3 linked regions of the Homo sapiens genome follow. The protein of the gene in region 3 interacts with the protein of the main gene of each other region in a pairwise test. Each region holds a gene or a part of one and is shown on either strand. Other genes may lie near its edges.

Region 1 (3,749 bases), on a different chromosome or scaffold from region 3:
GATACCTTCTCTGCTGAAATTATTCTTTCACTAACTTTCTTGTTCTTTAGAGCAATAAAGCGGAAACGATGCTAAATGAGAAAAAGACTGTCTCCCATCCCATTCATCCCACATCTACTGGGCACCTCATATGAGCACTATTCTGCTTCTGGACATAATTCAAAAAAGATTTCTCACTCTCTCTTTCTCTTTCTCTCTTTTCCTCTCTCTTTTTCTCATTCTCTTGACCCACCCCCCTCTAACTCCCTGTGCCAGACTCTGACTATAGGACGAACATCTGCTTGCATGACTGACTATAGGACCAACATAGCATAAGTGATCAGTATCGGCTGACTGAATCTCTAAAAGGATCCAGATAAAGAGAAGAGCGGGCCCAAAAAGAAAAAGAAGAGGAAAAGGAGAACAGAGAAAGTAAGGAGAAAAAGAAGCAAAGGACAAAAGCAAAGGTAAGAGATGAAAACAAGAAGCCAAGCAAGGAGGCTGCTAGTAAAAGGTGGGAAGAAAGAGAAAAGGGCAGTGAAGGGTCAAGAAAAAAGAGTTCTATTCTTGCTCCAGCCCATCTTCTATCTTGCTCTACAGCACCACACCACCTCCCCAGCAGACCCCCATACCTAGGCCCTAAATTTTTCCAAGCTCGGAAAAGGAAGCCTGTTCCACATGGTCCTCCAGAAGCCATTACAGATAGAATCACTTTAACTTCATCCGCAATAGAGAAGTGCAGTTGTGCAAAACCCAAGAGTCTTATGTGATTGTTGTAGAGGCTCAGGGTGGGCAGCAGGGAAGAACATGGGTAAAGGATACACTAAACTCTTCCAGTCCACATCCAGAGACAAACTCAGAGCAGAGCAGGAAACAAATGGATGGCCAGGACTACAGTACGGACTACAGCAGCTCTTCACTTACTCCTTTCCAGGGTAAGGGAAAGGAGAGGCAGAGAGCTTAGAGAAACTAGGCATCATCACCTTATCCTACCATCTCTAATCCTAGGAACAAAATGCAAGTTGGGTGACCCATAGGGCAAGGAAGAATTCCATCTGCATGATACCTAAGATCAGGAGAACTATATGAGAAAGAAGAAGTAAAAAAGGAAGAGGAACAGGAGAAGGTGAAGAGAAAAAAGATGATGAGTTGCTTCATTGTCCAGTTGGTAACTGGCGCTTCATGTCATTACAGGTTATAATAATGTGCTTTTTTATAACAGAAGTTAGGTAATTGCAGTTAGGAGTGACCTGGTCTGGTTGGGACAGCTCGCACAATGTCAAATCAAAAGGTCGGGAGCTTTTGTGACATTTTCCCCCCTTGAGCTCACAGGCAATGACAGGACTGTTACAGACAGCTTTGACTGTGTTTAGATCCTCATGGATGAATGCATACTGGGCTATGCAACTCTGACTGGGCTCCTTCATCTTGTGTGCCATCATATCATTGCATTCTCTATCTGTCTGGTCAAGCCTAAGATAGTCTTTGTTGCTCTGAAAGAGAGCTGAGGCTCTGAGCATCTTGTTACCCCCAACCTCATCTTCACCGAGGATGGGATCTTCTGGCCAGCCAGGTTGCACCACTTCTTTGTTGCTAAGCACCAGCGTTTCTGTGGTTTGGGTGCCGTCTCCCTCCTCAGTGGCCTCAGCTTTGTCCTGTGAGTCACTGGACCAAAATTCATTGAGCGGTTGATCACTCTCCTCCAAGACTGCTGTAGCCATATGAAGTCCCAACCCCAGGCCCATCCCCAGGCCCAGCAGCAGCATCAGCAACATGAAAAAGATCTGCACCAGATTCAGCTTCATTTTGCCTGGAGAGGAAGCGGGAAATGGAAGAACGTGACTTTGAGATCAAAATTGGCTCTAGTAGAGACTGTAATCTCACTAAGCCCTACAGCATTGTATCTGGGGTCTCCTGTGTCTTCTGCACATTACTCTACCCTCTTCAAGGCAGCGATTTCTCTTTCCATTCCCATTTCTCTTGTTCCTCCCTACCACATTCCCTGTTGCTGTGTAATAAAATGTGGAAGTTTCCTCATGTTTCTTCTCTTGAAGAGTAGGGAGATGACCAAGGGAAGCAGTTCTGAGGTAATTTACATATGGGAAATCAGTGAGGAAAGTTGACATCAATTGATTCTTTTTTTTTTTTTTTTCCTTTTGAGACAGGATCTTGCTCTGTCACCCAGATTGGAGTACAGTGGCACCATCATAGCTCACTGAAGCCTCAATCTCCCAGGGTCAAGTGATCCTTCTGCTTCAGCCTCCCAAGTAGCTGGGATCACAGGCACACACTACCATGCCCAGCTCTTTTTTTTTTTTTTTTTGAGACGAGTCTCGCTATGTTGCCCAGGCTGGTCTCAAACTCCTGCGGTCAATTAATCATCCCACTTTGGCCAAAGTGCTGGGATTACAAGTGTGAGCCACCATGCCCCTGACATCAATTGATTCTTAAACAGAAATTTGTGCCAAATAACCAGAGAATGATTGAGAAGACAAGCGTGTACAGTGTCACACTCTCCTTTAGGGAAATTCTTGTAGAAAGCCTTATTGTCAATATAGGACTAGATTTACCACAGAAGACCATCTCTTTATTTTTAACCCAAATTTGCTTTTGCTTATTCAAATATCTATTACTCTTCTTGTTACCCACCTTCCCCACAAAAGATAAAAAGGAATAGAAAAAGTACCACAGTCCATTCTTACTCCTAAGCTGAGGCTGGAGGGAAGATGTCCAACTTTACATCTCAGGCCCCTGCTAAAGCTACATCTTGTTAAGCCAGATTCCTTCTACTATTAAAGATCTCTTAACATCTGAGTAGTCTTGCTGATTAGGTTTATACTCTCAGGGAAGAAATGGAATAAGAATGAAACCAAAGAAAATCAAACAATTGACCTGCTGGGGGTTCCCCTACTCATAAAGATTCTAAGGAGGCCAGGCTTGGTGGCTTCTGCCTATAATCCCAGCACTTTGGGAGGCCAAGGCAGGTGGATCACCTGAGGTAGGAGTTCAAGATCAGCCTGGCCAACATGGTGAAACCCCATCTCTACTAAAAATACAAAAATTAGCCGGCATGGTGCCACGCACCAGTAGTCCCAGCCACTGGGGAAGCTGAGACACGAGAATTGCTTGAACCCGTGAGAAGGCCAAGATGGTGCCACTGCACTACAGCCTGTGTGACGGAGTGAGATTCTGTCTCAAAAAAAGAAGATCCTAAGGAGAGCTGAGCATGCATCTTTGTCTTGCTAGGCCAGTCTCATCCCCTTAACAAAGAGACACATTCCCTGCCAGAAAAAAAAAAAATTGCTATGAAGAACATTATTGAGGCAATTGATAAAAGTATGATCTCTGTAGTAGATAAGAGTATTATGGCAGTCCCCCTTATCCACAGGGAATATGTTCCAAGACCCCAGTGAATGTCTAAGGCCCTATATGTACTGTTCTCTTCCTATACATACATATCTACATAAGTTTAATTTATAAATTAGTAATATATATTAACAACAACTAATAAAATAGAATAATTATAACAATATACTGTTCAAAATTTGCAGATAAAAGATTCTTTCTTACTGTAGATTTTACCAATTGCAGCATGTTTTTCCCCCCTTTCCTTATTAAGTTGAGACACTTTCACCTTTTCACTCAAACGGAGCACTTTACGGGTTCTTTTTGACGTGTCTGAATTGCCAGCATCATCATTCTTGCACTTTGCGGCTATTACTAGGTAAAATAAGGGTTATGTGAACACAGGCGCTGAGATACTGTGACGG
Region 2 (3,749 bases), on a different chromosome or scaffold from region 3:
TCAAGCAATCCTCCCACCTCAGCCTCCCAAAGCTCTGGGAAGACAGGCAGCCACCCAGCCCAGACTCTTTCCTAACTGTTGATGGCTACCTGTCTCTGCTGATAGCTGTGAAAGGAAAATACAACCTTAGGACCCCAAGCTCAGGATGCCAAAGGGAAAAGTTAAGCTTGGGAACTCAGTCATGCAAAAAACAAAACCGAAAACAAAACTGCATTCCTTTTGTTGCCAAACAGATAGCTATAATTTCACATGCTTACTTTATCTTACGTAAAATGTAGATTTACTGAGCATGAGAAGAATGCACCCAGGGAGAGCAGAGAGTCAGTATAACTACTTCATGGTTACCCACAAGTGGAGAAAATCCGAAGGCAGAATGGCCCAGAGCAGCCGCAACATACAGGGAATTAGCAAACAATGAAAGCCACTTAGGCACGAGGGCTGGAGGGAGGACTCAAAAACACAGCCTATTCTGTTTTCGTAAGGAGGAAAGACAGTAATCCACTTTTCTGATACTCTATTTTCAGGGCTCACCTGGGCCTAAAACTGCACCAACCACAGATGAACTTTAGCTGGCAGTCAGATAGACTCGGTTTGTAAAAGGCAAGAGCACTGGGTCATATCCAAAAAAAGAACAAGAAAATAGACCGCGACCCCGATTTAGATCCAAAAGACCAGAGTCCAGATTGCGACCAATATCTGGTACTCTACTGTTTGTGAAATGAGACCAGTATCTGGTACTCTACTAGTTGTGAAAGGGTGCTTTTCTCATACCAGCAGAGGGGCAAAAGGCAAAATGAGGCCCCTGCCTGGTTCCGTAAAATATTTTACCTTCCTGGTCGGTGGCTTTTTTTTTCTTTTTCTTTTTCTTTTTTTAAGAGAAAGCGTTTTGGATGGGGAGTCCCGCCCCGGGAGTCTTCACCAGGCGGCCAGAATGGCAAAGTCACAGGGATGGGGTTGAGGGTGGGGTTAGGGGTGAAGGGGCAGAGAGTTATTTGCAGCCCAAGAGCAAGTCTGCACAGCGTGAGGTCTGGCCCACTAATAGTCCCGAAAGAGGAAGCGGCGGGGATTTTATCCGGCCTGAAGCAGCCCCATAACTTCACTACCATGAACCGAGAAAAAAAAACTTCACGCCTATTCCTCCCTTACAGGAAGGGAGGGAAGGGGAAGGGGAAAAGGGGGCAGCAAATGAGCAGGGCGAACCGGCTTTTCTTTCTTCGGTAGCGCTCTGCTCAGATGTGAGAAGTAACGGGTCACCTGGCCACTAGGAACAAAAATGTGGTCCCGCTCTGGGCTCCGAGGCTGCGCGCGCCTCGAGGAGGAGCTGCCCGCAGCCCTGGCTGGAGCGAGCGCCCGGGACGCATCCCCCGACGCGGCGGGAACAGGATGCGGGACCGCGAGGAGACAATACGCCCGCCTGGGCACGCGCGCTTTAAGGGAAGGGGGTCTCCAAAGTCAGCCCCCACCCGGGAGGAGCAGGCGCCCGCGCTCCCCACACCCTCCTGCGCCCCCTCTGTCGGCAGCCATCTCCGACACAGCTCCTCCGAGCTCGCGCTCTCCATCGCGCCCTTCTTCCTTCAGCACACTAGGCTGCCCTGGGACTTACGATTGGCTTGGGTCCCCGGTCCCGGTCCCCGCCGCGGGAGGACGGCTCCAGCACAGGCTTTGCGCGCAGGTCGAGGGCCGAGGCGCCGCTGCTTGCAGGCGGCTGCGGTGGAGCTTGCGGCCCGGCACTTAGAGGGGCGCGGGCGGCGATGCCCCCGCTGGCTCCCACCTTCTGGCCTGCAGCGGCCGGCTCTACTGAACTTCAGAGTTACTCATTTCCTGGATGTCACAAAAACTTTTTCCTCCTTATAAGAACAAAACACCCGCCTCTACCCGCGGCCCCGGAAGCTCCTTAAGGAGGACCGTGTGGGTTTCGGTGGTTGGGCCCAGGATCCGCCGGGAAGACCTTCCCAGTGAGCCCCCAGAAACTTCCCCGGCACGGCAGAACTGGAGAGTGACTGGGAGAGACGGAATCAGGCCAGTGGAGTAAACTGGAGCGAGTGGACAGGGGCGCGGGGAGGACGCCCTTAAAAGTCGTCCTAAGCCGCGGAGCGGAAGGGGTTAAGTCCTTACCAGTCGGGGAGAGTTTTCTGCGGCGCGTTTTACAAGTGGCGGAATTCCTGGGGCCACCTATTTAGTCTCTTGGAGGAAAATATAACTCTAGACAAAACGCCAGCCTTTTTCTCTTTTGCAGCTTGAAAGGATTAAAATAGCTTACTACCGTTTTTTTTTTTTTTTGAGAAGGAGTTTCGCTCTTGTTGCCCAGGCTGGAGTGCAATGGTGGCGCTATCTCGGCTCACCGCAACCTCCGCCTCCCGGGTTCGAGCGATTCTCCTGCCTCAGCCTCCCGAGTAGCTGGGATTACAGGCATGTGCCACCACGCCCGGCTAATTTTGTATTTTTAGTAGAGAAGGTGTTTCTCCATGTTGGTCAGGCTGGTCTCGAACTCCCTTCTCGGCCTTCCGAAGCGCCTGGGATTACAGGCGTGAGCCACCGCGCCCGACTTTTATGATAATCAAATGCATGGTTGCTTTTCTCCGGGATTAACCGGGCACAAAGGAGAACAGTGACCGGATACTGTACGGGACAGGCGCGGTAGTTTCTGGTTACTGTTGTGACGGTAGATCAAGTGTTACTACCCCTATGTTAGAAACGAGAGAACTGAGGCCTGGAGGAGCAGCAGCAGCGTTCTGGTCGAGCTTAATAGTTTATGAAATCCATAACTTCTATTGTCTTCCCTTTGACCTGCCCAAATCCTACCATCAGTACAAAAGGCAGAGCAGGGTTTGAATGAATTCTCCATTAAGCGGCTTTGGGGGCACCAAATGCCAGTGAAGGCACATTGGGGAAATTGGAACACAGTGTCCAAAATGATCACCATTGCTACTGCTATTTGGTCTTAGATCACCTTTTTTTCGTCTTTTCCTTTAACACTCGCCTGGAAGACTTTTTGGCTGAGTCTGAAAGATAAACAGGCAATGAGAAAATGTTCTAAAAATAGACTCCCTGGCCCTTGGCCCAGGGTACTTTTGTTTTCAAGTTTCTACTGCTGCTCAAATTCTTTCCTTACGTAAGAGGTTATGGCAGAATTTTGGGGGCCAGTATGTGTGTTGGAGGTGGTGGGGGCGATCTGGGGAAACGGTCTTGAAAGAGCTGTATTTCCAAAATGTCTAGAAGTTGGTCCGGTGGGTTACTCACACCCTCCGCAAAGCAGGTGGGGGAAATTTCTGTGAAGTAAGAGCGCTGGGCTGAGCTTTGTCATCCTTGGGCTAAGAGTTCAGCGTTGTGCTGGAATGCCAAGGTTAGTGCTTGAATGCCCTCTGGGATTGTCATCCCGTCTGCAAAGTTGTTTCAGCAATTTCTAACCAGCCATGTATATTTATATAAGGAATATTTATTATATTTGTTTTGCTTTTAACCTGATGATTTCACCTTCTGTGTTCTGATTGGTTCCTGTCTGTTCTAAGGTCCACCCTTCTACCTGGCTTGTAAGTCGTTCATGAACTGGCCTCTGCTTATCTCACCAGCCTCATATCTCACTCTGTGTCCCACACAAAACTCCTTGCAGTTCTTGGAACCTGTGCTTCCCAGAACGTGATATGCTCTTTGATATGCTGTTTGCATGATATGCTTTTTCTCTCCCCTTGGATATTCATATGTACTCTACTTTCTGCCTGCCACAGCCACCCCACCTCCTCCTCCAAACT
Region 3 (3,749 bases):
TAGTTTATGCGCATAGGACTGTTTATACTATTCTTTGATGGTTGTTTGTATTTCTGTGGGGTCAGTGGTAATATCATTTTTGATTGTGTTTGTTTGAATCTTCTCTCTTTTTTCTTCATTAGTATAGCTAGCGGTCTATTTTATTAATTTTATCAAAAAACTAGCTCCTGTATTCATTTTTTTTTTTTTTGAAGGGTTTTCTGTGTCTCTATCTCCTTCAGTTCAGCTCTGATCTTGGTTATTTCTTGTCTTCTGCTAGCTTCGGGGTTTGTTTGCTCTTGTTTCTCTAGTTCTTTTATTTGTGATATTAGGTTGTCAACTGGAGATCTTTCTAGCTTTTTGATTTGGGCATTTAGTGCTATAAATTTCTTTCTTAACAAGAATGAAATTTTAGCTGTGTCTGAGATTCTGGTATGTTGTATCTTTGTTCTCATTCAAAGAAGTTCATTCTTCTCATTCAAGAAGTTCTGCCTTAATTTTATTATTTACCCAAAAGTCATTCAGGAGCAGGTTGTTCAATTTCCATGTAGTTGTGTGGTTTTGAGTGAATTGAGTGCCATGTGGTGATGAGAAGAACGTATATTCTGTTGTTTTTGGGTGGAGAGTTCTGTAGATATCAGGTCCACTTGATCCAGAGCTGAGGTCAGGTTTGAATATCTTTGTTAGTTTTCTGTCTTGATGATCTGTCTACTATTGTCAGCAGAGTGTTAAAGTCTCCCACTATTATTGTGTGGGAGTCTAGTCTCTTTGAAGCTCTCGAAGTACTTGCTTTATGAATCTGGGTGTTCCTGTATTGGGTGCATATATATTTAAGGTAGTTAGCTCTTCTTGTTGAATTGAACCCTTTACCATTATGTAATGCCCTTCTTTGTCTTTTTTTTTTCTCTTGAGACAGAGTCTTGCTCTGTCACCCAGGCTGGAGTACAGTGGCGCAATTTCAGCTCACTGCAACCTCTGCTTCCTTCTTTGTCTTTTTTGATCTTCTTTGGTTTAGAGTCTGTTTTGTCAGAAACTAGGATTGCGACCACTGCTTTTTTCTGTTTTCCATTTGCTTGGTAAATTTTCCTTCATCCCTGTATTTTGAGCCTATGTGTGTCTTTGTATGTATAGTGGGTCTCTTGAATACAGCTCACTGATGGGTCTTGTTTTTTTATCTGGTTTGCCATTCTGTGTCTTTTAATTGGGGCATTTAGCCCATTTACATTTAAGGTTAGTATTGTTATGTGTAAATTTGATCCTGTCATCATGATGCTAGCTGGTTATTTTGCAAACTTATGTGGTTGCTTCACAGTGTCACTGGTCTGTATACTTCAGTGTGTTTTTGTAGTGGCTGGTAACAATTTTTCCTTTCCATATTTAGTGCTTCCTTCAGGAACTCTTGTAAGGCAGGTCTGGTAGTAATGAATTCCCTCGGCATTTGCTTGTCTGAAAAGGATCTTATTTCTCCTTTGCTTATGAAGCTTAGTTTGACCAGATATGAAATTCTGGGTTGGAAATTCTTTTAAGGATGTTGAATATGGGCCCCCAATCTCTTCTGGCTTATAGGGTTTCTGCTGAGAGATCTGCTGTTAGTCTGATGGGCTTCCCTTTGTAGGTGGCCTGGCCTTTCTCTCTGGCTGAATGGCAGGGTTCTTAACGTGTCCATGTACCTCCTGTGGGAAAGCCATGGATGGACTTTAGGAAGCTCATGGATTTTTCCAAAATTATATATAAAAATCTGTGTACATGTGTATGTGTGCATTTTTCCAGGGAGAGCATCATATTTTTCATGAGATTGGCACAGGAATCTGCCAATATATGAAAGGTTAAAAACTACTCTCTTACATAAAAGTGGTCCTAGGAAGATATCTAACATCTGCAGTTTGAGTATTTGGCCATTGTGGTTCCCTAGCTTGCCCCTCAGCATTGTCTGCCTTGTTTTCTATCTTTAGAGTTTATTTGATATAGATAGATAGATATAGATATAGATATCTCATGTGTTTGTCTTCTATTCTTACAAAACAACAAAATAATGTATGGGCCTTTTTGAGAACATACACGCTCTGGTCCAATATGTGGTAACTTTGATTTAGTGGGTTTAGGATGTTACCAGGGCATATCAAGCTCCTGGGGTGACTGTATACTTTGGATGAGAATTATTCTATCCATGATATGCCCTTGGAAGGCAGGAATCAGTTTTTATTCATCTTTTGTTTCCTTCAAAAAATGTGTCTTGCATCCATTAAATCTTCTGTTGAACTGAAATGCACAGATGACTCATTCCCAGTGAGATAAGTCTTTTTAGCAACTGGTAGTTTTTATTTTTCCCTTATCAAATTTCAGCCTTCTTACCATGCTAGCAAATACATGTTTTGTAGATCTTGTGACTTCATTTTTTTTTTTAAGAATGGTTACCCATTCTAGGACTCAGGTTATGGCATTGTAACAAGATGTGAAAAATGGAATTCTTTTAGTTTCAGATTTGGCTTAGGCTCCAAGCTGCTATGTACCAAAATAAGGTGTGAGACCACCATGTAGGAGTTGCAAAAGATGGGGATAAAAAACATGTTTTGTGACTCATAAAAAAGGCCAGGTTGATGGAAATTAAAACATGATTTTTGGAGAGAGCTATTAGAGTTTTAGGGCTCCCTATATGAAGGAATTAGGGAGGCTTGCTCTCATCTCAAGCCCTCACTGAGAAAGGGCTTTTCTGGTACAGAGACTTTCTACCTGATAGTTCAACTGGATAGCCAGTGGCAGAATTAGCTGTGTGGTTTGGGCAGTTACTGTACTGATGAGAGTGGAGCAGAGGTGTTTCCTGTGGACCAAGGTGAGCACACACAATTGTGAGAGAGTGTGTCTGAATATGTTCAAGAGGCTTTCCTGGAAGTGTGACAGGATCCCAACACAGAGAATCTCTGGAGGACTGCCAAGAACCTAAGACTGAAGGGAAAGTCATAGCATCCATCCAGAGGGTAAATTACCCTTTTCAAAGAATAGGTAAGAAATCTCCAGGGCCTAGGGAAAGGAGAAGTGTCTGAAGAACATGAGAAAGTACCCCATAAGAGAACCACAGTAGTTTTTGAATACCTTGCAAACTCAAAAAGCACCAATGCAAAACTAGTAAGATAATACCAGTCATCAAATAAGAACTTTGCTGCTCCTTTCACCTTTCCCTCCATTTAACCCTCAACCTGGAGGGCCACAACTCTTAATCAGCAAGCTGAGGGAAGAGGACTGGAAGTACTACAGGATAAAGAAGCACTATAGGCCTTGGTGTGCTGGCTCACACCTGTAATCCCAGCACTTTGGGAGGCTAAGATGGGCGGAGCACTTGAGGTCAGGAGTTCCAGACCAGCCTGGCCAACCTGGCGAAACCCCGTCTCTACTAAAAATACAAAAATTAGCTGGGCATGGTGGTGCATGCCTGTAATCCCAGCTACTTGGGTGGCTGAGGCAGGAGAATCACTTGACTCCGGGAGGCAGAGGTTGCAGTGAGCTGAGGTCATGCCATTGCACTCCAGCCTGGGTGACAGAGTGAAACTTCATCTCAAAAAAAAAAAATAGCCCTATAGGACAGCGGTCCCCAACCTTTTTGTAACAGGGACTGGTTTCATGGAAGACAGTTTTTCCATGGACCATACCGGGTGTAGGGGGTAGGGGCAGGATGGGGAGAGGAGCGTTAGATTCTCTTGAGGAGCACTCAACCTAGGTCCTTCACATGCGCAGTTCACAATAGGGTTCTTGCTCCTATGAGAATCTAATGCTGC

Evidence for each region.
Region 1: the proteins of SGTB (region 3) and RNASE10 interact in binary tests that used the Homo sapiens proteins (3 or more experiments, as listed by UniProt).
Region 2: the proteins of SGTB (region 3) and ITPRIP interact in binary tests that used the Homo sapiens proteins (3 or more experiments, as listed by UniProt).

What each region holds. Positions count from the first base shown.
Region 1 is NC_000014.9:20,508,507-20,512,255, reverse strand, and holds part of RNASE10 (inactive ribonuclease-like protein 10 precursor), read right to left. Parts: intron 1,790-3,749; 5' UTR 1,785-1,789; coding exon 1,134-1,784; 3' UTR 1-1,133. UniProt on the Homo sapiens protein: Secreted proximal epididymal protein required for post-testicular sperm maturation and male fertility. May be involved in sperm adhesion to the egg zona pellucida. Does not have ribonuclease activity.
Region 2 is NC_000010.11:104,336,643-104,340,391, forward strand, and holds the start of ITPRIP (inositol 1,4,5-trisphosphate receptor-interacting protein precursor), read right to left. Parts: upstream 1,824-3,749; 5' UTR 1,604-1,823; intron 1-1,603. UniProt on the Homo sapiens protein: Enhances Ca(2+)-mediated inhibition of inositol 1,4,5-triphosphate receptor (ITPR) Ca(2+) release.
Region 3 is NC_000005.10:65,673,456-65,677,204, reverse strand, and holds part of SGTB (small glutamine-rich tetratricopeptide repeat-containing protein beta), read left to right. Parts: intron 1-3,749. UniProt on the Homo sapiens protein: Co-chaperone that binds directly to HSC70 and HSP70 and regulates their ATPase activity.